2 linked regions of the Homo sapiens genome follow. The protein of the gene in region 1 purifies or fractionates together with the protein of each later gene. This does not show direct contact. Each region holds a gene or a part of one and is shown on either strand. Other genes may lie near its edges. The genes, in order: PLEK and WDR75.

Region 1 (15,533 bases):
ATTTGCAGAAGAGGAGACAGACCCAGAAGGCTCGGTGATTGCCCCAAGTCACATGGCTATGACAGTTGTGACCAGCCACTCCTTCTCTGATGCTTAGGTTTCTGATTCATGGCACTGAACTTTGTTCATTACTCCAGCATTTTCTTAAAGCAGATTTATTCCAAGTTAGGATTTGTAGTGTATTTGTGATGGTGAGAGCTATGAGTTGGTACTGGAGAATAAGTGGGCCCTCAGCTGCTAATCTCTGTAGCCAGCTGTGCTTCGAAACATCCTTTGGAAAAGACACACTTATACATAGAAGTGTAAAAGATTACTTGCAATAGGCACCAATAATAATTGGCGAGACCTGGTAATAATTAATATTGACTTATTCCTTTCCTGATCACTTGTGCTAGTATCCTGAGAAGAGCAAGTGAATAGGAACATTTCTGCAAGTTTTTGTTTGTTTTTTTAAACAATTAAAAACATCTTGCAATGAAAATTGCTGTTATAAAGTTTGTATGCTCATATTTTAATCTCCCTAAATTACAAAAATATGAAGACTAAATTTCTAATAAGTGAAGCTGTCTCACTAAAAATTGGGGATGATAGAGTCAGGGTTGTCAAGCATGTGGATTTAAATTAATAAATAGTTTTTAATTAGTGAGAGTAGTTCTCTCAGATTGTAAAAGCCAATCTAGAAAATGTGCCTGGAATTAAATAGTGAAATTTTGTATTGATAGTTTTACAATTTATATCTTCCATAATTTTCATGTTTACAAGTTACATCTTCCATAATTACTGCATTTTTCTCTGGGACCTTTTGAACACTCTGATATAATGCATTAAGATTCTCTTTTTTTTTTTTATTCTTCTAAAACTTTAATTTTAGGTTCAGGAGTATAGGTACAGGCTTGTTATATAGGTAAACTCCTGTGACAGGCGTTTGTTGTACAGATCATTTTGTTACCTAAGTACTATGCCTAGTATCCAATAGTTATTTTTTCTGATCCTCTCCCTTCTCCAACCCTCCACTCTCACATAGCTTCCAGCGTCTCATTTGATATTTTAAAGAAATGTTTGGTCCAGAAATATTCCCTTTTTCAGCTGCAGAACTAAACCTAAAGACAGAGTTTCCTGAGAAGGTATTAAAGTTCTTAACTACTTTAGACATTAAGTTTCCTTCAGTTACCTCACGTGTGGGTTAAAAACTGTATATGTCAAGAATCTGACATATAATTGGTGTACATAAGCTGCATAAGACACTGATTATTTGTATCAGCATCAATATATGCTTCAGTAGATAGTGGGGCCTCCCCTAGATGTTAATGGGGCTATGTACTGGTTCCTGGGTTGGTTGCCAAATTAATTATGAAGGAAGGGCCATAAAAATCTTTGAAAAGGCTCTTAGAAGCCTTGGCTATGGTTTTTGATATTAAAGCATGAAAAATAATATAGTGAATCTTCCTCCATTCACCTTTTTCTCTTATGCAGTTCAAGATACCTGGGTAGTAACAGAGAACATCTTTGTCCTGTGTCTTGTTTTATGAAATAATTTTATTGCAGATAAGTTGTTTTGGGTGGAAAAAATATAGCATTAGAAAATGCTGGTGCAGGAATTTTGTCAGGTCAGAAATCTTGGGGTCAATAGTGTTAACTGTAAAACGTTTCTGCTTTTCTTCTGTGCAAGATGACTGTTGACATTTCACAATCCAGGTTTCCTCTTTTGCCTCCTGAATAAGATCTCCAAATGAAGACAGTGGTTAAGAGGGGGAGGGAAAATACAAGATTCTGTCATTTTCCAGCTTTTTCATTCCAAGTAACACCCATGTCTCTTTGCCTCAGAGTCTTTCACCTTACTTTTTTGTTTTAAAAAAGAGCACTTCTAGCCAACCATGGAGCAGCAAGCTGCTATACGAACATGACTTCATTTAATCCTAACCACCCTATGTGATCCTCATCTTACAGATAAGAAAACTGAGGTTCACAGAGAATAAGTGATTCGTCCACAGTGAAACATGTGGCAAGAGGATGACCTGGGATTCAAATCCCGGCCTGCCTAACAGCAAAGCCTACCATCTCATTGATCCCAGGCAGCATTCTGAAAGGCAGGCTTGCCCTGGCCTGCAAAAGAACTCACTAGAGCCAGAGCAAGGCACGAACAAATTGTTTTGTGGGCAAGATTAAGTTTAAAAACCTCAGCCTCCTTTCCTCTCTGTTTAGGGGGTTTCTTTCTGGCCAATAAACATGTTTGGAAGGTACTCGAATACCTACTACTGAATTAGATATGTTCATCATCATAACTGGAAAAAATGAGAGAAGAGCAAATTATATGCTCTGCATAACCTAGACTCCTCCAAGTCATGTCTCAAACCAGCCTAATTCCTAGAGGTTTATGGAGCAAGCTGTTGTTTCCAGGACAACCAACCTCACAAGCACTTGGCGCAGCAGCGCTGACTCAGAAAGTGGCTGAGGGATTTGGATGTCCTTTGAGGCTGGGAGAAAGCATAGGAATCAGGGTGATGGGAAAGGGAAGGGCAAGCAGCAGGGACAGGAAAGGAAAGGGCTGCAGAAAGCTGTGGTAGAAGTGGAAGAGAGCCCGAGAGTCAGGGTCCTGGCCCAGGAGTTCTTTCCTGGATCTACCTTGTCTTCTAGGCAGCATGAAATAATCTGAAGCGATTTGTGCCTACTGATTCATCATCACTGTAACAGCTAACGCATGTGGTGTTTACCCTGAAGCAGGAACAGTTCCAAGCATTTCATGCCTTAATGCATTTATACAGCATACTTAAGACAACTCAACAAAATGGGGACAATTATTATCCTTACTTAACAGATAAGGAGATTGAAGTACAGAGAGGCAAATGGCCTTGTCCAAAGTCACACAGTTAATAAGTGGCAGAGCTGGTTTGCAACCCAGCAGTGTGGCCCCAGTATCACGCAGAGCCTAACCACTTTCTATGTGGCCCTCGTGGGCTCGTACTGCAGTGACATTCTTTTCCAAAGCACTGTCACCATGATGAGGGGTACCCAGGGGAACATTATGCCAGAGCGACTCCACAGTGTTGCCTACAAAACCGTACTCTTTTTTTTTTTTTTTTTTGAGATGGAGTTTTGCTCTTGTTGCCCAGGCTGGAGTGCAATGGTACGATCTCGGCTCACTGCAACCTCCGCCCCCAAAACCGTACTTTTACCTGTTTCTATGGTCGCCATTTTTCAAATGTATACTACATGCTGGCCACTGTGGTGAATGCTTTATGTATATTATCTCATTTAATCTTCACCACAATGTGAAACAGGTGCTTTGTTACCTTCATTTTACAGGTGAGGAGACTCATGCTTGGAAAAATTAAATAAGTTACCTAAGGTTACAGAGCCTGGAAGAGGCAAAATTGAGATCTGAATTTAAATCTAAGGCTCCAGAAGTCATGCTGTTAAGCACTCTCTGTGCCATTTCTGTATTACTTATTTAATATGTTTTCACTGATAAATTTTCCAACCTGGAAGAGTTCACTTATGTAAAAAATATGCTACTGAATAGACTAGTTCCTTTGCCTTCAGTGAGTTTGTATAGGCACAACACAACCATTTGTTTGGGATGTTATGTCAGTGATTTGATGGATCAGATTGGAAAACTAGATGATGTGATTTATGTTGTAGCCAACATAAGGGCTTAATTGAATGCAGCATCAACTTAAAATAACATGTCCCATGGGTGTGCAAGAATAGATAATAGTAACTGACAGTTCTGCTTTAGATATGCAGTTTTGATCACAGTGTAATTTTCCTTTGAATTCCAGCCATACATTGTATGTGAAAAGAGAAATTTGAGGGAAAGGGGAAGTTAAAAGAGATGCCTTCACTTTGTAGGGAGTGTCTGAGAGGGGTTCTAAACACAAATATCCGATTGCCCCAACCCTCAGCCATTGGTTGTAGCTTCTTTCTGTGATGCTGGGTGTACACAAGAAGGCACACCTCAATTTGTGCATTCATCACACTGACCTGGAGGTCACTCTCTCCCATGTGAGATTGTGAACTATTCGAGAGCAGAGATAGGGTCTTGTTTATTTTTGTTTTTATTTTTATTTTATTTATTTATGTATTTTGAGACAGAGTATTGCTCTGTAGTCTTGGCTGGAGTGGAATGGTACAATCTTGGCTCACTGTAACCTCCACCTCCAGGGTTCAAGTGATTCTCTTACATCAGCCTCCCAAGTAACTGGGACTACAGGCATGTGCCACCAAGCCCAGCTAATTTTTATATTTTTAGAAGAGATGGGGTTTCACCATGTTGGCCAGGCTTGTCTTGAACTCTTAACCTCAAGTGATCCACCCGCCTTGGCCTCCCAAAGTGCTAGGATTACAGGTGTGAGTACTGCGCTCAGAGTTGCTTAATTTTACATCCCAACAACCAGGCCAGTGTTGAAAGCATAGGAGCCATTCTATCATTATTTGTTGAATGAACGTGTCCCAAATAAAGAAACTTGCCTAAAATAGACTTCATAGAGACCAAAGTAACTTCTTAAGTCTTAAGAAAAAGTAATTTCAACGGGGGTAGTCATTTTTAGATGATCATGTAGAATATATTTCAAAGATTTATTATTATTTTTTGGCTTTCAAGCAAGCCCAAGGGTTAGCAGGGACACCTGGAAATAGAAGACTAAAGGGGGAAAAGAGGGACAGCAGGCACCTTGGAATAGATGTGTAGGATCTCAGGGTAGAAAGAGATGTTACAGATTTAATACAGCTTCTCATCTGCAGCTTGCATTTCTTTTATTCATCTGTTAACAAGCATGCTTGAATACTTCTCTTGTTAGGGAACTCACTAATTACATTTTCTCCCTTAAGTTATGCAGAAAACTGTTTTCCTGAAACCTCCACCGGCTGGGACCTCAAAACAATCCAGGCATTCACACCTGCTCTACCTGTTCCTTTATGGGCTAAAACCTAGTTAGTTCCTCCAACAGTTAGAGAGATGATACCATCTTGGTGTTCTGCTTTGAACAGGCTCTGGTTTACCTGCAGCTTTGAGGTCACTTGAACTTAGTATAGTTCTCCAGGAGCACCTGATAAGCATAGAACTGTAAGGAATAGGTACTATTTAATGAGTGATTACTATATGCCAATTACTGATTTAAGCAATTTACATGGATTGTTTTCATCTCCCAACAAAGCTGAGAAGTAGATATCATCATATCTGCTTGCCAGAAGGAGAGAATGAAGTTTAAAAACTTTCTCAAGGCCACATTACTAGAAAGTGGCAGAGTTGGGATTTGAGCCTGAGCCATCCAGCTCCAGAGCCCATGGTCACCTGCAGGCTATGCTTCGTTTAAAGACAGAATTATCATTTTCCTTGCTTTCGATCTTACACTTCTCTGTATACAACCACAACGAGTTTAGTTTTTTTTTGACAGCCCACATCAAATTGCTGACTCATAGAGCTCCTTTTTTCCCACATGCTCATTTCCCACACCTTATAAGTCTTTACAAAATATTATTAAAGAGAAAGGCTGTATCTTATTTAATTTCAATTTGCATTTCTTTGATTGCAGTTGAAGCAATCAATTATGTTTTATTGGACCCAGCTTTTATTCGTTTGAGAATTGCTTATTTATATTATTTGCTCATTTAAAAAATTGGGAGTGTTGATATATTTCTTATTGGTTCTAAAGTGTTTAAAGAATTAAGGATATTAATTTTTAATCATATGATGATACAAATATCTATGCATTTTCATTTGCTTTTCAGTTGTTGCAGTTTTTTAAATATAGAGAAGTTCATTTTTTTTTTTCTTGAGATGAAGTCTTGCTCTGTTGCCCAGGCTGGAGTGCAGTGGTGTGATCTAGGCTCACTGCAATCTCCACCTCTTGGGTTCAAGTGATTCTCCTGCCTCAGCCTCCCAAGTAGCTGGGACCGTAGGTGTGCATCACCACACCCAGCTAATTTTTGTATATTTTTAGTAGAGACTGGCTTTCATCATGTTGGCCAGGCTGGTCTCAAACTCCTGGCCTCAAGTGATCCACCCACCTCAGCCTCTTAAAGTGCTGGGATTACAGGCATGAGCCACTGCGCCCAGCCGAGAAGTTTATTTTTAATATGGTCAAATCTGCCGTTCTTTATGATTTCTTCTTTTGATGTCATGCAATGTCAGACTCTTAGGTGCTAAATTATACCAGTCCCATGATGATGAACAGGTATTTACCAGAAAACTTCAAATCTGACTCAGCATCCCATTGTGGACATGTACAGGTTTTGGCATATAATGGGTGAAAACACATATATGCTACACACACACATGCACACACACACACAGACACACATACACACAGCATATGGATATATATGTGTGTGTGTGTATATATATCTCCATTGAAGTGAAATAGCTAGCTAAGTGGTCTAAAGAAATCGATACAGATTCCAGAATGACTCAGTGTTATACAAGAACCAAAATGAAAATGACATCTGAGGGGAAGGGAAAAAACATAAAATTGAGAATCAGGAGACATGGATTCTACATTAACTGGTCAGATGTACTAGGCCAATCACTTAACATTAATTGTTCAGATGTGGTAGGCCAATCACTTAACTGGGCCTCCACTTTTTTTTATCAATATGGTGACAGTGTTGGTAGATGATCCTAAATTTCTCTGTCATTTGGACATTCCATAATCACACTTCCAGGTTTGCTCTTGGGTGAGCATCAAGTGGGTTGGGGCCAGAAAAGGAAAAATTTAGGAATGGTCAAGGAGAGGTGCTGCCAGGTTACCCGAGTGAGAAACTGGTAGCTGCAGTAGTGGTGAAGAGGAGAGAAAAACCTCCTCAAATTCCATCATCCTGACCTAACTCAGCACTATCAGGCCTGGAAGGATGTTTAAGCTTTGTAAGTGGTCAGATTTCTCTTGTTTCATAAAGTATCAGCCTCTTCATTGTGCATAATGACCCTGAATCCCAAATGACACATCCTCCTCAGAGTCAGACCCCGGAGGCTGCACTTGATTTAGAAAAGCACAACGTGAAGGTTAGTTACATATGTATACATGTGCCATGTTGTTGTGCTGCACCCATTAACTCGTCATTTAACATTAGGTATATCTCCTAATGCTATCCCAACATGGCACGTGTATACATAGGTAACTAACCTTCACGTTGTGCACATGTACCCTAAAACTTAAAGTATAATAAAGAAAATAAAAAAAAAAAAAGAAAAGCACAAACTCATATTGGACAGTTGGCTCCAGAGGCTTTGTCTACTGAAGGCATGCAATGCCAGCTTATCGCTACTGATGCATCCCAATTTCAAAGTCAAAAGCCCTGAGTGATGATGGCAGTTAATAATCTCAGCTATTCCTGAGGTTGAATATTAAATGTTAGGTTTAAAAGGGATTCTGGCAATCATCTAGTGCAACTTTTCATTTCTAGCTCTGAGAACATGTCTTTCTTTTCTTATTTCCAGGTATTTTTAAAATTTTTTATTAAATAGATTTGTCTATGTATTTCACTAAAAGTATATTCTAAATTTTAATACATAGCAGAGTCATATGTTACTCATTCATTTAATAATTTTCCCAAGTTATTTTAAAAGTTAAGCCCACAGAAAAATGAGGAAACTAGTACCATTATTCATATAGCCTTTACCTAGATTAATCAATTGATAATGGATGGGCACATTTGCTTTGTCTCTCCCTATCTCTGAATTTCTGTATAAATAAACACACATATCATATTAGGTTGAGATAGTTGAGAGTAATTTGCAGACATCACGCTACCTCACTCCAAAATACTTCAACATACATCTTCCAAGAAAAAGGACATTTTCCTATATAATCACAATGCCATTATCACATCTAAGAAATTTATTACTAATAAAATGACCTTATCTAATACACCTTTTACATTCAAATGATGCCAGATCACTCAATAATATTCTGCATAGCGGCTTTGAAAAGAATCCATGATTCAATCGAGGACAATTCATTGCATGAATATGCTGTTTTTCCAGTGATTAAGTGAGAGAAGTAACTAATGTGGAATAGTTTCCTTCTATAGAAGCAACTTGAAGGGTGGTGTTACTATAATCACTGTATACCCCTCCATGGAGTTAACTAACAGGACCTGGAGTTAACAACTTTGTTTTTTAATTGAAGGATAACTTACAATAAGGTACATGAAGGGTGTCATAATTTTTTACATACCTATACCTCATGTAATCAACACACAGATAAAGACAGAGACATTTCTAGTATGCTATAAAGTTCCATTGTTCCCTTCCTAGTCTATACTCCCATCGTCGGTAACCATTATTGTAATATTTTCTCATAAGCTATGCCTGTTGTTGAACGTCATATGAATGTAATCATACTCTAAGCACATGTTTTGCCTGTTTGCTTTTCACTCAACATCTATGAGATTTATTTATAATGTTCCAGGTACTAGCGGTTCATTTTTTAAAAATTGCTAGGTTGTTTTCCATAGTATACATTTACTGTGTTAATAATGGATTTATATATTATATTATACAGTTTACTTATTCCTTCTCCTGTTGATGGGCATTTGGGTTAGTCTTTGTTTCTGGCTATGATGAATAAAGGTGTCATGAACATTCTTGATGAAACCTTTATGACAATATGCATTCATTTCTCTCAGATCTTTGCCCAGGAGTGAAATTGCTGGTGCAAAGGACATATATGTGTTTAGCTTTAGCATAAAACCACCAGATATTTTTTCTGCACTGGATGTGATATTCTGCACTCCTGCCAGCTATGTTTGGTACTTCCAGTTATTCTACCTCCTTGTCAAGTCTTATTCTTCTCTGACTTTGAAAATGCTAGGTACTCTAGCAGGTGTGTAGAGGTATCTCATTGTGATTTGAATCTGCATTTTCCTGATAAATAATGATGTTGAACACTTTTTCATAAGCATTTGGATGTTTTCTTTACTAAAGTGCCTGCTCGATACTTTTTGCTCATTTAAAAATAGGATTATTTGTACTTTTCTTATTGATTTGCAGGAGTTCTTTGTATTCTAGATATGTTTCAGTTGTAAAACAGAAAGGCATTTTACTGGAATTATTTCATGTGTTGGCACAGTGTCTGATCTTGCTCATTTTTAAAAGGGGAAATAATCCAGTGTTCGTCTGGAATAGTTATTCTGCCCATGCAGAAAAGAGATAGGGTATTTTAATTTAGAAAATTATTTTAGTAACTAGAACAAAGGAAATGTTTGGACAAGCAAAGTGATAGTCCCACAAGTATTTATCTTTGCATAAATAGTCTTCCTTTTGGTCAACTGGACCTTTATATAGAGGCCCTTTGTATTTTGAGATAAGCAGCAGGGTCTCTTGGGAACTGGATGATAATTCTATTTTGTGGTAGTCATGACAGGGTGATATCATGGGTTAAAGAATAGACCTTTGCCAAATTCTTCCAAAATATAGACCAGAAATAGAGACTTCCCTGTTTTAATCAGAATGGTCAACTTATTGCTAAAGGGGCAGCTGGCATGAACCCAAACTGAAAACATTTTAAGTAAGGATTTTTTTAAGGGCTACATTAATGTGGATAGCCTCATTCTGGCATTATAGACCTTTTGCAAGTGATTTTCATACAACTTAGCCATGCCTGCACACAAGGCTGCTGTCTGAGTTTCTTTTTGACATTCATATTCAGATAAAATCTGATTAGCCCAAGAGATGGAAGCAACTGCAGGGTGCATGCCACCACTTATGACTGCTTTGTCTATGGGAGACACGGCTGTTGGATCACAACACTTTTCCACTGAGTCCAGCCTCAAGCATCCACTACTACTCAGTCTGAATTGACACTTGAGATAGATTCTACTTGCCATTCTTGAGTTGAACTGAACTCAATGGGCAGGTTTGGGAGCAGAAAACAAACCACATAAAGTCAGCCTGAAATGTACCAGGGGAGCTTATGGGTTGACTGTCACTGTATATACATTTTATCTTAATTAAAAAAAATTCCAGTAGAATGACAGTCCTCCTTTCCCCTGAAGGCATCCTTCCTGCGCAGCCTTGTGCAAATGTGGACCACCTGCCTCCACACTGGCCAAAGCTGAGTTACATATTGTCCTGCAGAGGTCTATAGGATCATTTTAGGAAATATTGTCACACTTATTGTGTCTATTCTTATGTTAATCATTTCATTATGTCTTATTTATTCAGTCTTATCTATTAATAATGTGATCTTATTTTTAATTTTTAATTTTTAAAATTTAAATTTTTGTGGGTGCATAGTAGGTATATGTATTTATAGGGTACATGAGATGTTTTGATACAGGCATGCAATGAGTAATAATAACACCATGGAGAATGGGGTATCCATCCCCACTAAGCATTTATCCTTTGTGTTACAAACAATCCAATTACGCTCTTTTAGTTATTTTAAAATATACAATTAAGTTGGCAATAGTCACACTGTTGTGCTATGAAATCATAGGTCTCATTTATTCTTTCTGTTTTCTTGTTTTTGGTACCCATTAACCATCCCCACCTCCCTGCAGTCCCCCACTTCCCTTCCTGGCCTCTGGTAACCATCCTTCTACTCTCTGTGTCCATGAGTTCAGTTGTTTTGATTTTTAGATCTCACAGATATGTGAGAACATGTGATGTCTGTCTTTCTGTGCCTGGCTCATTTCACTCAACATAATGATCTTCGGGTCCATCCATGTTGTTGCAAATGACAGGACCTTCTTTTTTATGGCAAAGTAGCCCTCCATTGTGTATATGTACTACACTTTCTTTATCCACTCATCTGTTGAGGGACACTTAGGTTGCTTCCAAATCTTGTCTATTGTGAACAGTGCTGCAACCAACATGGGAGTGCAGATATCTCATCCATATACCGATTTCCTTTCTTTACAGTATATACCCCCCAGTGAGATTGCTGGGTCAAATCGTAGTTCTGTTTTTAGTTTTTTGAGGAACCTCCAAACTGTTCTTCATAGTGTTTGTACTAATTTACATTCCCACCAACAGTGTACAAGTATTGCCTTTTCTCCACATCCTCAAAAACATTTCTTATTGCCTGTTTTTTGGTTAAAAGCCATTTTGACTGAGATGAGCTGTTATCTCATTGTAGTTTTGATTTGCATTTCTCTGATGATCAGTGATGTTGAGCACCTTTTCATATGCACACTTGCCATTTGTATGTCTGCCTTTGAGACATGTCTATTCAAATATTTTGACCATTTTTTGAATGGTTTATTAGATTTTTTTCCTCTAGAGTTGTCTGAGCTCCTGATATATTCTGGCTATCAATCCTTTGTCAGATGGGTAGTTTGCAAATATTTTCTGTCATTCTGTGGGTTGTCTCTTCACTTCGTTGCCTGTTTCCTTTGCTGTGCAAAAGCTTTTTACCTTGATGTGATCACATTTGCTTATTTTTGCTTTGGTTGTCTGTGCTTATAGGGTATTGCTCAAGAAATTTTTGGCCAGACCAATGTCTTGTAGATTTTCCCCAATATTTTCTTACAGTCATAATGTGATTTTAATTACCACCGTTCATTCCACAAATTATTGATTGAACACCTGACAATATGATGGTGAAGTAAGTTCTTGCCCCCCTGGAACATATAGTTGGGTGGCAATAGTTGACAGAGTGATTTTACACACTTTATATATAAAACATGTGTATACATATGTATTTAAAGATATATACACTGTATAATGTATATGTACATTATTCACATATAAGCATATGGCATGCATTATACACTTATATATACATATTTTATACATGATCTAAATCTAAACTATGCTTTAAGATGGAATTATTATCTCTCTCTTAGCAAACAAAAAGCCATGGCTCAGAAATATTAAACATTTTACCCAAAGACATGTACAACTAATAAGTGGTTGACATGAGGCTCAAATGTAGGTTCGAGTTTTGACCCCAAATCATAGCATACACTGAAGTATCCTAAATACTTCAAGCATCATTGGATGACATGTCATACAATAATGGAGGAGGCCTGCAAGTCTGAGGCAGGCCGGATTCTTCACAATCCCAAACCTTATTCCACCAGAAGAGAAACCAAAGGGAAGTGTGTTTCCTCACAAATACATTCATGCAGATCCTCAGGGCCTTCAGCTTTCCCATTCATTACTCCACATGGCAACTGGCTAAATATTTTTGACTCTTCCTCATTGGGATGATACTGATACCAGTTCATTGTCATTTTTCCAAGAATAGAGAGGATGAAAACTCAAAGCATGGAAGACATTCATACATGGCCATCTGTCAAGATACTTAATAATACAACCTCTCATTTGTAGAGCACATTCGAACTTATAAAATCTTATCCAAATTATTTCATTTCATATGTTCTAGAAATCTCTGAGGTAGTCATTCTTATCATTTTAGTGCTGGGAACTGAGCCTTAGAGAGGGCAAGTGGCTTACACAAGTGTGGGCAGTAAGAAAGTCATAGAACCAGCTGGGCGCGATGGCTCACACCTGTAATCCCAGCACTCTGGGAGGCTGAGGCAGAAGGAACACGAGATCAGGAGTTCAAGACCAGCCTGGCCAACACGGTGAAACCCCGTCTTTACTGAAAAAAATAACATAAATATTAGCTGGGTGTGGTTGTGCACACCTGTAATCCCAGCTACCTGGGAGGCTGAGGTGGGAGAATTGCTTGAACCTGACAGGCGGAGCTTGCAGTGAGCTGAGATCATGCAATTGCACTCCAGCCTGGGTGACAGAGGGAGAACCTGTCTCAAAAAAATAAAAATAAAAATAAAATTTAAAAAAAGAGACAGAGAGAGAGTGCTTGAGCTAGATCATCTAAGATTCAGCCAACCATCTCAGCAGTGTTACCAGAGCTTGTAAGTGAAGGCAGATTTGGGGTAAAACCAGCTTTTATTTATATGTGTCTTCAGTGAGTCAGATTAGTTGGTTTGCAGGCCATATTTTGAAAACCACTAGGCTTTAGAATATTTAATTCTTTCTCCAATTCTGACTAACCCTCCCAAGAATTGAAATGTTCTAAAACCCTGAAAAATGAAAACCCTTCCAACCGAACACCAATAATTATCATTTTTGTATTTTTCTCCTCAAAATAGGCAATTAAACATGTAAAAATAAATAAAGACTTCAAAAAAAGAAAGAACTATACTCTAAGATCATGTGTCAGATGTAGTTTCAGAAGCAAGATCTGCCGGCAGTTCTTACACATAGCGGGGGTGAGAATGTTTCTGTGAGGTGGGTCCTTTGTGGTTCTTAATGGTGTGAACCCGACATGAAAAGGGAGGTGCAGGGGAAATCATAGCAGGAAAGGGTTTGGGTGGGGATGAAGTAGATAATAAGAAGGATTGGTTGCTCTTTTCAATGAAGTGTGATAGCTGCTAGCATTTGGCAGTTTGGGAAATGATCTTCTTTTGTATTATTTTAATGAACATCCCCTGTGTGCTCAGTATCATGAACCAAGGAAAGTACCTGATAATGTAATTGCCATGGAGAAGGAAAGATAACCATACTGAAGACAATTAAAGAACTACATGAGGAAATATATAACAAAGTTCCAGGTTGTATGGCACAATCAGTGAGAAAAGCAGGAGGCACCCCTGAGATCACGGTGGGTCTGTGCAGTTCGGGAAGCCTCATCAATGAGGTGGCTAAGCTGAGCCTTGAAGGATATGGAGAGGTTAGGCAAGGTGAGAAAGAGGAGAGGGCAGAGTTGGGGAGGAGTATTCCAGAGAATGGGGTTGGCTTGAGCAAAGAGCCGGGAGTAGAAATGAGAATGGCTCCCCAAGTAGCCACTGATTTGAGAGGATTTGTGTTGAAGGAACAGAGATGATGTCACCAAACATTTTAAAAACCAACTGTAAGTAAATATAGAATCTTTCCTGTTAGGAGGAAAATACAGTTTGCAAAGAGCCCTGTCCATCTCAGCTCTTTTGGTTGTCATTACAGGGGAGCGTGTTCAATACGTGGAAACCCATGTGGGTTGTATTGTTAGAAGATGGAATTGAATTCTATAAGAAGAAAAGTGACAACAGCCCCAAAGGAATGATCCCGCTGAAAGGGAGCACTCTGACTAGCCCTTGTCAAGACTTTGGCAAAAGGATGGTAAGTTGACATCATGAGCTGCCGTGAACCCCTGGTCAGGCACTCAACTTTTGGTGCAAGCATTGCCTACAATGTGGGTGGTGCTCCTTGGGCTGGTCCCTCTCACCACCACCCACACCCCACCCTGGCATTTGGGTTTCTCTTGGCTAGAAGAGGTTTAGGCCAATGGCCTCTGCTTCATGAGGGGCCCCAAGCCCTTGAAATAAGCCATTTCTAATGGGATGTGTTTTGATTTTCAGTTTGTGTTTAAGATCACTACGACCAAACAGCAGGACCACTTCTTCCAGGCAGCCTTCCTGGAGGAGAGAGATGCCTGGGTTCGGGATATCAAGAAGGCCATTAAATGCATTGAAGGAGGCCAGAAATTTGCCAGGAAATCTACCAGGAGGTCCATTCGACTGCCAGAAACCATTGACTTAGGGTGATTTTCTGTGTTTACTTCTCTTTACCCATTCCTTCTGAAAGACACAAACATAGCAGATCCTGCTCCAAGGCTTGCTTTGACCACCTCTGATGTTGTATCCACTCTGCCAGGTCAATACTGGCACTTGGTGTACTAAAATGTTTACCTGGGTCTGAAGGAGTGATCCAAGGCCTACTAGCTGAGGAGAGGAGGCGAATGGAGTACAAATTCCCTCATACTGGGTACCAGAGAGAGAGAGAGAGAGAGAGAGAAAGAAACATCATCATTGCATTTATAACATAGCCATAATAAGTCAGTCTTGAAATAAAGCTTTAGGATCTTTAGGTAGAAAGGAAAAAGCAGGGGCTATGCATCCAAGCAAGCAAGGTTTCAAGTTCAAGTTCATTCATTTACACACTCAGGAAGGGCCAGCCAGGGTAAACACCCATCCTGGTGGAAGCCATTTATGTCCTGACCCAGTTTAATGGCCGCTGATGTTGGTTGGCTTGGAATTGCAGGTGATAGTTGTAGACTAAAGGTGGTCAGAGGCCAACAGGAAGATCTAGCTCCTGACAGAGGTTGGGAATGGGATTTCTTCCTTCCTGAGTATCTCACATCTTTGGTCACATGAGCCCCTTTCTCTAGGAGTCACTTTCTTCTTGGTAGTTTTGCTTTTTTGTTGAGCATTCCCTGAAGCAGGAGCCCTGTTGAGAAGAATCCCATGCCAGCTGCTTAAAATGTCCAACAAGAATTTTGTTTTTATGGAGGGTGGGGTGGGGAGAAGCACTGAGAGGAGCCTAAAGACATCCCTTCTGCACTTCTGCATGACGACACAAGACTTGGCATGGCACAGGAGTTTGACAAAGTTTGTGAACTGAGCTGAGTGAGACTCAGCAGCCTCCTTCACCACAAAAGCTTTTTGGCAAAGAGCTCCAACGAGGCACCTAGTGCAGCTGCAGCTGCTGATGGGGGCCATCGAGTGACCACAGTCCTGGCCAGTGCTGTCAGAACTAAGTGGGAAAAATGCTCGGGCTATAGGGAGCCACAGGCTACATGGAAGGGGCC
Region 2 (15,533 bases), about 120 Mb from region 1:
TTTCTCTTATAATCAGCTAAATTTACTTATTCCATAAGTTTATCTATAAACTATTTTGGCTATGCCTTGGTGTAGTCATGCTGTCTGTGAACATGGAAGTGATTATTTCCTTCTTTCCAATCCTTAAGCCTTTCTGGTTTCATTTCAGTGCACTAGACATCCAGTTAACGTTGAATCAAAATGGTAATAATATTCTTAATCACAAAGGGAAAGTTTTCAATAGTTTAACTTTTAGTGTGGTGTTTGCTATAGATGTTATCCAGGTACTCTTGATGAGATTCAAAGGGTCCCATCCATTCCTGAGTTTCTGAGAGGTATTATCATGAATACGTATAGAATTCTGTCATTTGCTTTTTCTGCATCTATTCAAATAATCATGGTGTTTTCCTTTTGTTCTGTAAGTGGGGTTACATTAATTTATTTTTCAGCTGTTAAGGTAATCTCATTCTTGCAGTAAACTGCGATGACATGATACCCTTTAATATATCATTGGTATAGTATTTTGCTTAAGAATTTTCATCTGTCGTGAAATCGGCTTTTTTTTATATATATATAATATTTTTGGTATAGTATTTAAATGTTTAGAAAAATTTATCAGTGAAGCTATCTTGGCCTAAAGGATATTTGTTTGTCCAGCTTTTCTAGTTGTCAACAGAGGAGTTGGTCAGCAACAAACTAATCAGATATCACTGGAAAAAAAATTCCTGAACCAGTGATCATTTGTCTTCAGAGTATATTAAAAGATACGAAGACACTTTTTGTAGCTTTAAATGAGTTTATTTCTCTAGTACGGTAGCAAAAACAAAAGTGTTAATTATATTTTTCTTTCTCTTTTTTCCTCAAAACACCATCCTTTTAATTTCCTTGAATGGATATGAAGGCACCAGTCTGCTGAGTGGCGGTCGTGAATCTGTACTTGTAGAGTGGCGCGATGCAACAGAGAAGAATAAGGAGTTTCTCCCGCGTTTAGGAGCTACTATTGAACATATCTCAGTCTCGCCTGCAGGAGATTTATTCTGCACTTCTCACTCTGATAATAGTAAGTCTAAATTTTTTATTATGAGGAAATATATAAACACCATAAATTAGCTAGCATCTGTAGGGAACAGAGAATAAAGAGACCTAAAACTAAGAGTAGCGTATGAGATTTAATGAGCCTTCTTTTCCTTGCATTACTCCTCTCTTTTCCACCCCTCTCTACCCCTAGGCACCACCAGAATTCAACATTTTTGAGAATTATTTTTATAAAATGGAAGGCTAAGTGTATTTGGTTATTGATGTGCCACTTACATTTTCAAAGTCTTTTAGTGTGGGATGACATGAGGAAATAAAGGGAAGGTTTGGAAGTGGACATTGGTGCTTTCATAAACCTTCCGTTTTCAAAAGAATACTGCAAGATTCTCTTTTGATACAGCTGTTACCTGGGGGCAAGAGTCCTGTAGATTTGATAGAAATAGAGGCAGTCTTATATTTCTCCAAAACTTTGTTCATCCAGTGACTACTCAGCCTAGACTAGGATATCTTTGTAAATCCACTTCCTTTTCTTTCAAAAAAGAACATAACTGTGAGCAGTCCATTTAGTGGCATGAAAAAGTTAAACTATTTTTATTAGATATACTCTATAGATTTTGCATTAACACTTAAAATGTGTTCATAGGCACAACTGATAAAAACTTAAAGACTCCAACAGAAAAGCCCCTATCCCCACCCCTAGATTTTCCACTAACTCACAAAATGTATTCCTGATTTTCTAGTAGTACTCTGAGTTCATTGAACTTACTGGGTTGTTTTGTATTCTGGTATATTTCAGAATATAAACTCAGGTGACTCCTTCACCTTGAAGCTCTAACCCAGGGGTGTCCAATCTTTTGGCTTCCCTGAGCCACATTGGAAAAAGAATTGTCTTGGGCCAGACATAAAATATACTAACACTAATGATAGCTGATGAGCTAAAAATAATAATAATAATAATGTTTTCAGAAAGTTTATGAATTTGTGTTAGGCTGCATAAAAAGCCACCCTGAGCCACAGGTTGGACAAGCTTTCTCTAACCTATTGATATTTAAATACCTATTTTTTTCTACCCACAGAGATAATAATTATTCACCGAAACCTTGAAGCATCCGCAGTAATTCAAGGCCTAGTGAAAGGTATTGCAGAACTCAGTGGATTTGGAATCATGAACATTTTAAAGAGTGCATATTTCTCTTATTTCACCTGTTATTTGTCACCACTTCTGCAGATAGGAGTATCTTCACTGGTTTGATGATTGATCCAAGAACTAAAGCTTTGGTTTTGAATGGAAAACCTGGCCACCTGCAGTTTTATTCTCTCCAGAGTGATAAACAGTTATACAATGTAAGATTTTGATCATTAGCCTTGAAATTAATGAAAGCTCTTTACAGTACCACTGGAGTCAAGCAATTTGTTTAGTAGCTTTTAAAACAAGATCCTGTGCATATGTTTACTTGAACATAGTATTATCCGTGGTTACTTAGTTCAGTTGTTCAGAGCATAATTCCATTGAGGCCACAGTTGCAGGTTACATGTAAGCCAGTTGGCACTCCTGTACGTGCTGTCTCTGTCTTTTGTTTCAGAATGCCCTCCTATTAGCTATCCCATACATCTGTGCTTTTGAGTCACAAGGATAAAGAAACAAAAATAGGTAGATTGACAGTACAAATTTGTATCTGCTTCGTGGTGAAACACTATCATATTCACATATTGAAGATAAAATTTTCAGTGTAGATTAAAGAGGAACACTTCTTCCAATCCTGATAAGTCCAATCCAGATGTCCCACTTTTCTTGTTCCCCACAGTACTCTTTACAGATCTCTGTCATAGCAACTGTGACACTAGCTCTTTCTCACCGTGGCCTTTAGACCCCTCAAAAAAAAGGAAGCATATTAATCATTTTATGCTTATCTCAAGTATAATGCCTGTAAATTGTAGGCATTTAGTACACTTAATAGTAGGCATTTTATTTACTTAGTATAGGCAAGGAAATGGGATTTTTTTTAAAACAACCATAAATAAATGCTGGCCTACTTACATTGGCTATCTTTTTTCATTTCTTAAAGATTGTAGGTTTATTTCTGTTCTGCTTGTTTCTGTTGACAGAGAATCTAGCCTTGAGATGATGTAAAGCTGTTTGTTCTTAGAAACAAAAGAAAAGCACTACTATAAATTAACGGTTCTGTTGTATCATATAGTGGGTGTTAGTAATCGCTAATATTCAAGGTCATTGAAGAATAATTACCACCAAATTGATACTATTATAATGTGTTCCCTTTTTTAATGGCAATTTTGGTGTCCATAGTAACAATTAGTTCATTTTTGCCTTTATTTAAAAATCTATTACTATACAGTACAGAAGTTGTCTTGGATGTAGTTAATTATCATTTCTTGAATGCTGTAACATTTGTGTATTTATGTTAATAAACATTTTGGTTTTTTGGTTTTTTTTACTCATCAGTTAGATATTATACAGCAAGAATATATTAATGATTATGGTCTGATCCAAATTGAACTAACAAAGGCTGCATTTGGCTGCTTTGGTAACTGGCTTGCAACAGTGGAACAGCGGCAAGAAAAGGAAACTGAGCTTGAATTGCAAATGAAACTGTGGATGTATAATAAGAAAACACAAGGGTAATACTATCTGTGTAGCCACTTAATTTCAAAGTATAAAATATTTCACTTCCCATTTTACAGTTTCAATTGTCTTTAAGATGTTTCATCTTGACAAGGTTTAGATTTAGAGATATGGGAGAGGTTTTATTCTAATAAAACCTTTAAGCTTTCTGCTCTGAGAAGACATTGATGTCCTCTAAGTCATAATGTCATCTCATAATGAATAAAGAAACATGGAAAAGTGACACCTCCTCAAGGGCATAATACCGAATTCTAGGCAAATCCAGGGTTAGAATCCAAATGTTCCCTTGCTCTTCCGTTAACAGCATACTGCCTTTTGAAAAGAGGGAGTGTAGGTAGAAGTGTAGCATAGTATAATGTAGCATGGATGTTGTGATTAGATAAGGAATCCACTCTCGTACTGTGGCTATAATAACCACTTAACAGATCTTTGCTGTGTGCCAAGAACTTGGCTTAGAGCTTTGTACCCATTATCTTACTCTTCAAAAGAACACTGTAAGATAAGCCTGTTGTCTATATTTTATAGGTGAAGAAACAGGCCCAGAGAGATTAAGTGGTTGTCCCTAGTCACTGTTGTTATAACTTGTGCTTTTTTAAAATCACAATCCTATGCTGCCTTGATGTTCTTTTAAGAACACAGTCCTAGTTGTCTTTCATTCACAGCGTTGCCCTCTAAGCTCGAAATAAGCTTTAAGAAGTCATTTAGGTGACTAAAAATAGTAAATAATGACCAGCCAGTTTGACTAAGTAGTTTCCTGTCTATTTTTCCTTGCCCCAGGTGGGGCGTTTCACGGCCTTTCCATTTTTTATTTTCAAAAGTAGGCAGGAATCTGGGTTCTATACAAGTTTCCTACAGAGTTTGATACAGTAGGCTTTTGAGTATCATTGATTGGTGACCTGTATTATCCTCATTTTGTACCAATGTACTAGTGGGTTGACTACTACACAGAATGTTCTCTAAAGTCACACAAGGGCAAAGGTGATATATTAGAACTCTTTGCGTCCTGTGGCCATTAGAGGTAGAGCACTCAATTGTTTGTCATTCTACGTGATTATCAGTTGCCTGTTGTTCAAGATGCTATTGTAAAATGTACAGCATGTCAGAAATTCTTATATACATCACTTTGTCCTCATGCAAGAATAAATTTGTGGTTTCCTTCCCGCTAGGTTTATTCTTAACACTAAAATTAACATGCCACACGAAGACTGCATTACAGCTCTCTGTTTCTGTAATGCAGAAAAATCTGAACAGCCCACCTTGGTTACAGCTAGCAAAGATGGTTACTTCAAAGTATGGATATTAACAGATGACTCTGACATATACAGTAAGTTATTAAATATGTTATGTTTAAAGTGTGCACAATTTTAGGAATTAATTTCTTTTTCTCATGACTTGTATCCATCCTGGGAGGACATTTTCTACTTTATTGAATTCTACAGGATATTGCTTAATCTTAATAGATTTAAGAGATTACATTTTACATGCCTTTTTCCTCAAATCTGTTCTTTTTAAATGGCATTCTTGATTAATCATGTGCTGATTATTCTGTTTTTTTAGGGTAAAGTAAAAGGGGCTTTTACCAAGAGTCCTTTCACTCCTCCACTAGAGGGAGGTCAAGGTCTCCAGGAGAGGGCATAAATTTCAGAACAGTCAGTATTTTGTAGCAGTTCTGACTTAAAGAAGTTGTGGGGAACAGGTTTTCTTGTTTTGTGTCTTTGTTTCTTTTTTATTTTATTTGTTATTTGTGTGTGCATCTTTGTTTCTTAATCCCTACTGCTTATAATGTCCCTCATTTAGCAGTCTCCCTTTAACAGTGGGGGATACAATCCAAGACCCCCCCGCCCCAGTTGATGCCTGAAACTGCAGATAGTACCGAACCCTGTATATACTGTTTTTTTCCTATACATACATACCTGAGATAAAGTTTAATTTATAAATTAGGCACAGTAAGAGGTTAATAACTAATAATAGAATGATTACAATAATATACTGTAATAAAAAGTGAATATGTGCATGCTCTGTGTCTGCCTTTCTCTCTCTTTCAAAATATCTTTTTGTACTGTACACAGCTATTTTCAGACCTCAGTTGACCCCTAGGAACTGAAACCACAGAAAGTGAACCCTCAGATAATGGGAAACTAGGGGGAACTACTGTAGCATTCTCTAGCATTTACACAATTTCTGAACATTATGGCTTATATTTCCACAGAAAAAGCTGTTGGCTGGACCTGTGACTTTGTTGGTAGTTATCACAAGTATCAAGCAACTAACTGTTGTTTCTCCGAAGATGGTTCTTTACTAGCAGTTAGTTTTGAGGAAATAGTCACAATATGGGATTCTGTAACATGGGAACTTAAATGTACATTTTGCCAACGAGCTGGGAAAATAAGGTAGGTAAATCTTCGGGAAGTATGTAGTACTATTTTTTAACTTATTTAAACAAGTCTTAAAACTTTAGTAGTCATTTATGCCCTCTCCAAAAGTAGCCTGAAGGTCAGTGGGGCAAGCAGCTAATCAAAATGCTGGAAAGCCAAAAATTCTGAGTCCACAAACTGTGCCAACATTTCTGAAATTCAGGTTAACATTTAACTCTTGGCCTACATATTTTTTCTTTGGAATACTTTCATGGATGTGCTGAATGGTAACAGAAGCTATACATAAGCCTCAGGGGATCCAAACCTTCTTATTTTCTGTGTATTCCCATAAAAACCGTGTTATGCGCCAACCTCATTGTTTCCGAGAGGTGCAGGGGAAAGTAGCAGCAGCATTTTCAGGTCCTGCTTCAGGTAGTTGGGCCTGAGGACAGAATCAGATGCCTAATGAGATCGTCTCTAATTCCCAGCATGTCTGATTCTGAATTTACTTTGTAAAACTTTCTTCACAATTGAAATCGCAAGTTTTCTTCTTCTTGGTAAATAGGATTTTTGTCAGATGACTGTACGTTTCATGTACATTTTCTCTGTTAGATGTAAATTGGTATACCGCACAGTGTGTTAAAGAATTGGTCATCCGTTCTGTTTTCCTAAAGAAATAGCTAACTAGACCCTTCCTTTTGTACTCCTTAGACACTTTTTTCTTCAGGATAATTATAAACAAAAATATATATGTCTATATAAAAATCTGCATTACATAGAACAGCCGCTGGAAGCCTGCAGTTCTTTGTAACTGAATTTGCTAGAACTGACTGTTGCTAACTTCCTTGTGGTTTTAATCTAGGCACCTTTGCTTTGGGAGATTGACGTGTTCAAAGTATCTACTTGGTGCTACTGAAAATGGCATTCTTTGCTGTTGGAATCTGCTGAGCTGTGCATGTAAGATATTTTTTACTCTAAAGTGATCTGGCAAAGCGCATAAGGAGTTGACATTAAACTTTGGCATTTTAGGACTTAGGGATCATATCATCAGGTCTGTACTTGGAATAGTCAGTTTTTTACGTGACATATGATGCCACCAAAATTTGGAATACTGGGCCTGTAATAGACATTATTTATTAACTGCTTAATTGTTGGTACGTCAGCTTCCATTATCCTTACCTTTTTCTACTGTTTTCAGTGTGTGTGACTTTCTGATGCCCTCCATATTCCCCATCCTCGTAACAATTTGAATAATGTTTTCTGCTCATTTTTAATACTTACTAATCTACATTATCCCTGACAGCTTAAATTCAAATGTAGTCTATCACAGTCCTAACAAATGTGAACTTAGTGGCATTTTACCCATTTGAGTGTATGTTTGGAAGGCATAGTAGCTGCTTATAAATGAATGTGTATGGTAACTTTTTTCAGTATTCTTTACAGTTAACTCTGGTTAACATACTGTACACATTTAGCAGCATCAGAAAAGCACTAGACATAAATTTCAATGAAATAATAATCTTTTCATAGTTTGTACAAGGAGCACTACAGTTCCAGTATGTTTTTCTTTCGGCCTCTCACTTTAGTGCAGCATTCTACAAATCATTTCAGTGTGTCTCCATGTGTGTTAGTTGGAAGCATAAGATTCCTCTTCCTAAGAATAAGAGAAGTTTTTTAAAGCTTTTGGTAAATCTTTCCTTAGAAGTGAATCACCTTTGTTTTTCCCCTCAGTGGAGTGGAATGCAAAATTAAATGTTAGAGTTATGGAACCCGATCCTAATTCAGAGAATATTGCTGCAATCTCTCAGTCTTCAGTGGGTTCAGACTGTAAGTACAAACCACACTTTGTAGTAAGAGAACATCTATGACCTAAGTTTTCTTCTTAATATAATTTGAGCCAAACTTGCCTTCACATCAGATGTTAATTGGAAGCCATTTTGCTTGAGGCACGGCCCTTCTTTGCCCCAACACTTTGTCATTGTGTGCGTCCATACTTAGTTCTAGGAGAGCTCCAATATGTTTCTTATTTTTCCACAAGCCAATTCGTACTCAATCTTTAAAATTCAAGAGATTTCACCAGTTTGACATATTTCCAACTGCCCCTGAGAAGCTTTAATTGGTCATCCTCTATGTTCTTGAAGCAGTTTCTACATATCTCATTTCTAGTACTTACAGACAAAATACTACTGTAATAATATTTTGGTTTCTGTCTTCTGCAGTGGGCCCTGGCCTCTGGAGCACGAATTCTTCTTTCTGTTTTTCATCCTCATAGCCCTCATTCCTAACCTGCCTGGCCCATAGTAGGAACACAGTAGATACCTCTTGAATCAAAGCCTAAAACAGTCATGACTTGGGCCAGTTACTCAATGGGGTGAGTCCCAGGATTAGTGTGATCTGCCAGTCTGAGGCTAGAACTAACCTTTTCAGGCAAAATGTTATTGTTTCTTTGTTTTTTCCCTCTAGTGTTTGTATTTAAACCTAGTGAGCCAAGGCCATTGTATATTCAAAAGGGTATCTCCAGAGAGAAAGTCCAGTGGGGAGTGTTTGTTCCACGAGATGTCCCTGAATCCTTCACCTCAGAAGCTTACCAGTGGCTAAATAGATCCCAGTTTTACTTCCTAACAAAATCACAGGTAACTGCCTCCCTCAAAAAAGGCGATCACTTTGTACATGGAATTTTAGACTAATAGCCCATGACTATTGGTGTGAGTTTGTTTCTAGGTGAAACAGCTTCATTAAAGGATTATTTCCCAAAAAATTGTCTAATATGCTCAGTACAGCAGCATTATTAATGTAAATGTATTACCGTTTTACCCCACACTTTTGAGGTTCCTTAGGTATTGCTTGTATTAACTCTGTGACAGCAAAAAAGCAGAAGACAACTAAAATACTTTAAATTGCATGATTCTTTTTTCTTTTTCTTTTTTTTTTCAGTGTTTGATTTGCAATTTTTAAAATGGTGGCTTGAGTTTTGTCTGTCAGTTATATTTTTTATTCATTACCATTTCTTAAGTATCTCTCAGACATAATCTTGTAACTCTCATCGTGGTTATTAAATAGGTTTAAATCTTTTATTCCTTTTCTGTTGTCAAATATATATATCAAAGTGAAAAATTTGACCTTCTCATTTTTTAACACCCTGTAACACCTTGTTTAGATTTGCACTCTACAGTTTGTCTTTTGCATCATTAATTCTCTCTTTTCAGAGTTTATTGACATTCAGTACAAAGTCTCCAGAAGAAAAACTCACACCAACAAGCAAACAGGTATGTTTTAGCCATTCATAGCAGGATGTATTGCCTCCCTAAAAGGATACAATTACCTTTTAGAAGTCAACTATGAAAAAAATATTTCACTTGGCCCTAAAATAGAATTAAAAGCCATATACTTATAAACTGATATGTGTCTCTTGAAAGTTTTAGTGCTCTTTTAAAATTATTTTAATTTATAATATCAGTAATATATAATTCTGATTTAAAGAGTCAAATATTTTTACAAGGCTCTTCAGAAAAAACTTCTCCAACACCACTACCATTACCCACAAAGACAATCACTCTCAAATCTTTTAGCTGAAGTTTTTATTTAACTCTGAATCTCTAAGAAATCTCTAAGAAATGTTTATATTTCTAATTATAGGTTTTTCAGATTTAGGTATTATCTGTTAACTCTGATCTATTGACGCTGAATTTTTAGCTGTTTTTCACATCAGCACTCCCTGCATATACACAACACACACTTTCCCTACTTGTCCCCCAATTTTCCCCATATGGGTAAATGTTAAATTGGTTAGTTCAGTAGTCATTGTCATAGCTGTGTTAACACAATTCATAGCCAAGCCATGTAGTAATAGGCAGATTGTTTTTCCTTTTGTGACCAAGTTTTTATTTTCTGTGGAGTTAATGATTGCCTTGTTTTTTCATTTGCTTAGTTTTCTATTCTCATGTAATTCAACCCCAAATTCTGCTCAAGTTGTGTAAGTATTCTCTCAGTGTTTTCAGATACATTAGGTATTCTTTCAAGTCATAAAGGATTATTTCCAAGAGCCTTCTGACTGTCTTCAGTCTGGACTGATTGCTCTGGAAACCTGCTACACAGTAGTCATCCTAGGATCTATATTCACCATCATTCTGGGGATTTGTTTGACCTCTACTCTATTAGTGGTGTGGTTTTTCTCTTTCTTTGGTCACTCCCCTGTTTTGGTGAAGCATTCTTTTAGTGCATTGGAGGTCAATTTAAGACCTTGCATGTTTGGAAATGTTTTTATTCTCTTTCACTTGATTATTATAGAGTTGTAGGTTGAAAATCATTCTCGCAGAACTTTGACATTATTGTCCTATTATTTTATAATTTCCATTATTACTAGAAGACCAATACCATTCTTGTTCTTGTTCCTTTGTCTGTAACTTGGCTTGTTTATTTTCCTTTAAAACTCATTGGATTAATTCAATAATTTTTTGTTAATTATTTACTGTACGCCAGGGACCATTGTAGACAGTTGGGATACAGTAGTGAGAAAAGTAGTCAAGTCTCTAAACTTGCGGTATTCACAGTCCACCAGAAGATAGAGACAGTAAACAACATGCATTAAGTAAAATATGGAGTAGAGAAGGTGGTAAGAATTGTGGTGGGGTAGAGAATAGACGAAAAGATGGCATGCATGGGATGCAGCTTGTAATTTTAAACAGGGAAGTCTACGTAGGCCTTATTGAAAAGATTCTGACTTTTTCTCTGAGTTACATATAGGGCCCCTTGGAGAGTTTTGAGTAGAGAACTAAGGAGGAGCTAATTACTTCTTTCTCTATTCTTTTTCTAGAACTCCTATTATTTAGTGCTGGACTTTCTAGAATGGTTCTCTATTATTCTTATTGTTTTGCCTATTTTTTGTTTGTTTTCTGGAAGATTTCCTCATCTTTATCATCAAATCTTTTTTTCTTTTTCATGGTCTGTTTCCATTACATTTTTTTTTGTTTTTGGTTTGTCTTGGTTGCTGCCTTTCATCTAGAGGTTTTCATCAGAGTCTGATGATTCTTGGCTGTCTTTGGATTTAAAAGTGGGTTAAAAAGCCACTTGGAAGTTCTCTGCCTGTGCAGAACTTATCCCTTGGCTTCCACTATCTGAGCTAATTTATTGAGACAGTCTCAAATGTCATTACAATTGACCCTTGAACAATGTAGAGATTGAAAACCTATGTATAACTTTTGACTTCCCAAAACTTAACCTGAAGCCTTACTGATAACAGTTATTTGTATTATATGTATTATATACTGTATTCTTACAATAAAGTATGCTAGAGGAAAAAAAAAAGTTAAGAAATATCATAAGGAGGCCGGGCACGGTGGTTCTTGCCTGTAATCCCACATTTTGGAAGGCCAAGGCAGGTAGATCACTTGAGGTCAGGAGTTCGAGACCAGCCTGGCCAACATGGCAAAACCCCATCTCTACTAAAAATACAAAAATTAGCCAAGCATGGTGGTGCATGCCTGTAATCCCACCTACTCGGGGGCTGAGGCAGGAGAATCACTGGAACCTGGGAGATGGCGGTTGCAGTGAGCCTAGGTCACACCACTGCACTCCAGCCTGGGTGACAGAACAAGACTCCATCTCAAAAAAAAAAATTATAAGAAAGAGAAAAATATATTTATTCATTAAGTGGAAATAGATCATCACAAAGGTCTTCATCCTCATCTTCACATAGAGTAGGCTAAGGAAGAGAAGGAGTTGATCTTGCCATCTCAGGTCTGGCAGAAATAGAAGAAACTCCACATAGACGTGTTATTCGAACCCTTGTTATTCCAAGGTTAGCTGTATCTTTAGGTCTTACTTAGGCTGGTCAAATTAACCATAAAAAATTCTATGCGTTCCTGCCTAAAGGATTTAGACCTACCTGTCAGTGTTCTGAGAACCCCCTACATGAAGTACAACTGCCTAGATATGAAGATACCACCACCACCACCACCGCTATCCATACCTAGCCTAAAGATGTAGAGCCCTCTGCTGGGGCTGAGGAGGAGCTGTGGGGTGCTTTCTAAGTAGACTTTCCACCAGCCCGTCTGGTTTGTCTAGTCCCATTTTCACCCCACATCCAGAGTTACTATTATTACCAACTCCTGAGCATTTGCAGGATTCTGTAGTATGAATTGGGATGCTTCTTGGCTTTCCCTACAGCCAGCTTAGAATTGTGCTTTCTCAGGTCTACTAAGTTCAATACCATCCTTCAGCCTGCTCTCCAGTTTCCAACATGTTACTGTTAAGGCCTTTTCCCTCATTTTCTATCATTGTGAGTATGTGCCCTTTGAAAACCCTTTTGCTGTCATTTTTGTGGGATTTGGTGAAGAAGCAGTGGTAAATGCATGTATTATTCTGTCATCTAAGTGTTCACTGTTAGCTCTTCTCATAAGTGGGATGCTAGGCCTCAGTTGCTTTCTCTGTGAAATGAGAGGATCATACTAACTGGATAATTTGTAAAATTCCTTTCATCCCAGACTTTTTATGATTCTGTAGTACTTACTGTTAAGTCAAACACAGTTCTTCCTTTTTTCTGAAATAATTTCTCTTTGTCTTAAATCCTTAAAGCTGCTAGCAGAAGAAAGTCTTCCCACAACCCCATTTTATTTCATATTGGGAAAACACAGGCAACAGCAGGATGAAAAACTAAACGAAACTTTAGAGAATGAGCTGGTACAACTACCCTTAACAGAAAACATACCCGCAATTAGTGAGGTAAGTAATTATGAAAACCATGTGAAACAGATTAAATGCACTTAAAGCACCTGAAGTTGGAGTTTTGACACAGTCAATCTGTAATTTGTATGCTGTACAACTTTAATACCCAAACTAAATAACTAACAACAAACCGAGTAACTTAACCTTGTGATCTGGGATTGTTTTGTCCTGGACCTGGTGTAGGGATAGGGGTGGTTGTTGGCATAAATGTAGGAAGGTAGAAATGTATTTTTCTTTGGTTTGGCTTTTGTATAGGGAAAGCCTTTTCATGTTTCACTCTTGGCATTTACAATAAAAGGGACTCCGTGAGGACACTGTAGGAACAGACTGCGGTGGAGGATAAGCTTTTTAATTGCAACCGTGTTTTCTGTTTGACTCCAGCTTCTTCACACTCCAGCCCATGTCCTGCCATCTGCTGCTTTCCTGTGCTCCATGTTTGTAAATTCATTGCTGCTGTCTAAAGAGACTAAGAGGTAAAGCAGTTCTTAAGACAGGTTTGGACACTCTCTTTTGGGAAACAGGATCGTTTGTGTTTATCCTTTTTTAGAGTATTCTTCCACTGTATTTCTTTTTATTTCATAAGTTTTAAAATAGATTTAAAGGCTATAGGATTATTAAGTCAAGTAACATACATTGAAAATAAGTTTCAAAAAAGATCTTGTATGTGTGTGTTTTAAGGGCTTGGTACATAATTTAAAATTACATGTTTGTAAATTCACCTGCTCTTTTATAAATAACCCATAATTTTTAAAGTGTACTTAGTAACAAAATTCTTCATTTACTTTGTGTGATTATATTTCTACATAGGTGTCAAATTAGAAAGTTACTGTTTAGAAACATTTAATAGTGTTTATATTTTATTCTGTTATTGTTAAAGTGCTAAGGAAATTCCTGAAGATGTAGATATGGAAGAAGAAAAAGAAAGTGAAGATTCAGATGAAGAAAATGATTTTACCGAAAAAGTCCAGGATACAAGTAACACAGGTTTAGGAGAAGACATTATACATCAGTTGTCAAAATCTGAAGAAAAAGAACTGAGAAAATTTAGGAAAATAGACTACAGCTGGATAGCTGCCCTTTAAGCCTTGGAGATGGGGAGGATCCTTGGACTTTGTGTTTTTGATTGTATGTTGATATTCTAAAAACATCTATTTTAATGTTATTTCTGTTCTAAAAATAAGATAATAAATATTAACAAACTTTGCTTTTTTAAAAAACTGATAATATGAACATGTATTTGCATCATGCTTTACAGTTACTGGATCATTGATATACCACATCATCTCATTTTTTTATTTTGAGTCACACATCAGCCTTATAAAACAAGTAGGTATTTTCTTCACAGGTGATACAGCAGAACTGAGACTTGAACTGTACAGCATATGTCCCCTAAGCTGCAGTTTGGAGATACGAAAAGATTTGAAAGTTAAAAGGCTTTGTTGACATAATTGTTTTAACACAAATTCATTTGGTGGCCAAATGTGACCTGAGCTGGAGTGAGGTTTCTTTAGTCCTGATTTATTCCTCTTAGTGTATTTATTTCTCTCAGAGAAATTTAGAGACGAGTTGATTATGTGGTGTTCCACAAACCTCACTGAGGATATTATATAATAATATGGGCTGCCTAAAATTCTGAATTCAGATGATCTGACCCAAAGTCCAGTTGCTAGTAGAAAACGATCCAGATCCCCTGTTTTAGTTAAAGCAGTGAAGCTGCTACATCTTAACCACCTAGCATTTTGAGTTTTCCACTTCCCTAATGCACTTTTGTAAAATTTATATTTAGAAGTTAGCACAAAAACAAAGCGTTTGTAAGAGCACATCTCAATGAATGTTCACAAAAATTGCTGCAAATGGCTTTTTAGTTTGTGCTGTAGACCAAATGTTTGTTGTGCCCCCCTAAAATTCAAATGTTGGAATCTAATCCTCAATGTGGTATTTGGAGATGGGGCCTTTGGGAGATGATTAGGTCATGAGACTGGAGCCTTTGTGAATAGGATAAATGCTGTTACAAAAGAGACACTGGAGAGCTTCTTTGCCCCTTCTAACACGTGGGGATACAGCAAGAAGAAAACCATCTGTGAACTATGAAGTGGGGCCTCACCAAACAGCAAATCTGGTGCCTTTTTGTTAGACTTTCCGACTTCTGGAACTGAGACATAAGTTTCTGTTTATAAACCACCCGGTCTGTAGCATCCTAAACAGACTTAAAGTGTTTTTGAATCACTATTTATGTAAAATCTTAACTTTTTTTTTTTCAAGTCCCCAACCCCCACCTCGGACTCGTAAGTGGCTGGGACTACAGGCACTCACCACCACACCTGGCTATTTTTTAAATTTTTTGTAGAGATGTCTTGCTATGTTACCCAGGCTAGTCTCAAACTCTTTGGCCTCAAGTGATCCTCCGACCTTGGCTACATTTTTTAAAAATAAGCTACATTGAGATTTGAGATGTAACTCACAAACCATACAATTCATGCATTTAAAGAGGAAAATTTAGTGGGTTTTAATACGTTCAGTCTTGGACACCATCACCACAATCAATTTTAGAACATTTTCATCACCCCAAAACTAGCCATTTCCCTCAGCCTCCTTCACCTCACCAACAATGCAACAACTCATCCTATCTCTGTAAATTTGCCTATTCTGGACATTTCATGTAAATGGACTCATACAATATGTGATCTTTTGTAAGTGGCTGCTTTCATTCAGCATCCATGTTGTAGATATATCAGTACTTCATTCCTTTTTATTTTCACTTTTGTTAGTATACCTATGAGGGGAATTACTGGGTTATTTGG

The links.
Region 2: the proteins of PLEK (region 1) and WDR75 purify together in Homo sapiens (affinity purification with mass spectrometry; 2 studies listed by BioGRID and IntAct, with this or other methods). This does not show direct contact.

What each region holds. Positions count from the first base shown.
Region 1 is NC_000002.12:68,366,419-68,381,951, forward strand, and holds part of PLEK (pleckstrin), read left to right. Parts: intron 1-13,909; coding exon 13,910-14,065; intron 14,066-14,304; coding exon 14,305-14,486; intron 14,487-15,533. UniProt on the Homo sapiens protein: Major protein kinase C substrate of platelets.
Region 2 is NC_000002.12:189,461,604-189,477,136, forward strand, and holds the end of WDR75 (WD repeat-containing protein 75), read left to right. Parts: intron 1-880; coding exon 881-1,039; intron 1,040-2,090; coding exon 2,091-2,150; intron 2,151-2,242; coding exon 2,243-2,358; intron 2,359-3,475; coding exon 3,476-3,651; intron 3,652-4,821; coding exon 4,822-4,979; intron 4,980-5,864; coding exon 5,865-6,045; intron 6,046-6,871; coding exon 6,872-6,966; intron 6,967-7,740; coding exon 7,741-7,836; intron 7,837-8,472; coding exon 8,473-8,642; intron 8,643-9,215; coding exon 9,216-9,275; intron 9,276-12,582; coding exon 12,583-12,729; intron 12,730-13,113; coding exon 13,114-13,205; intron 13,206-13,609; coding exon 13,610-13,814; 3' UTR 13,815-13,949; downstream 13,950-15,533. UniProt on the Homo sapiens protein: Ribosome biogenesis factor. Part of the small subunit (SSU) processome, first precursor of the small eukaryotic ribosomal subunit.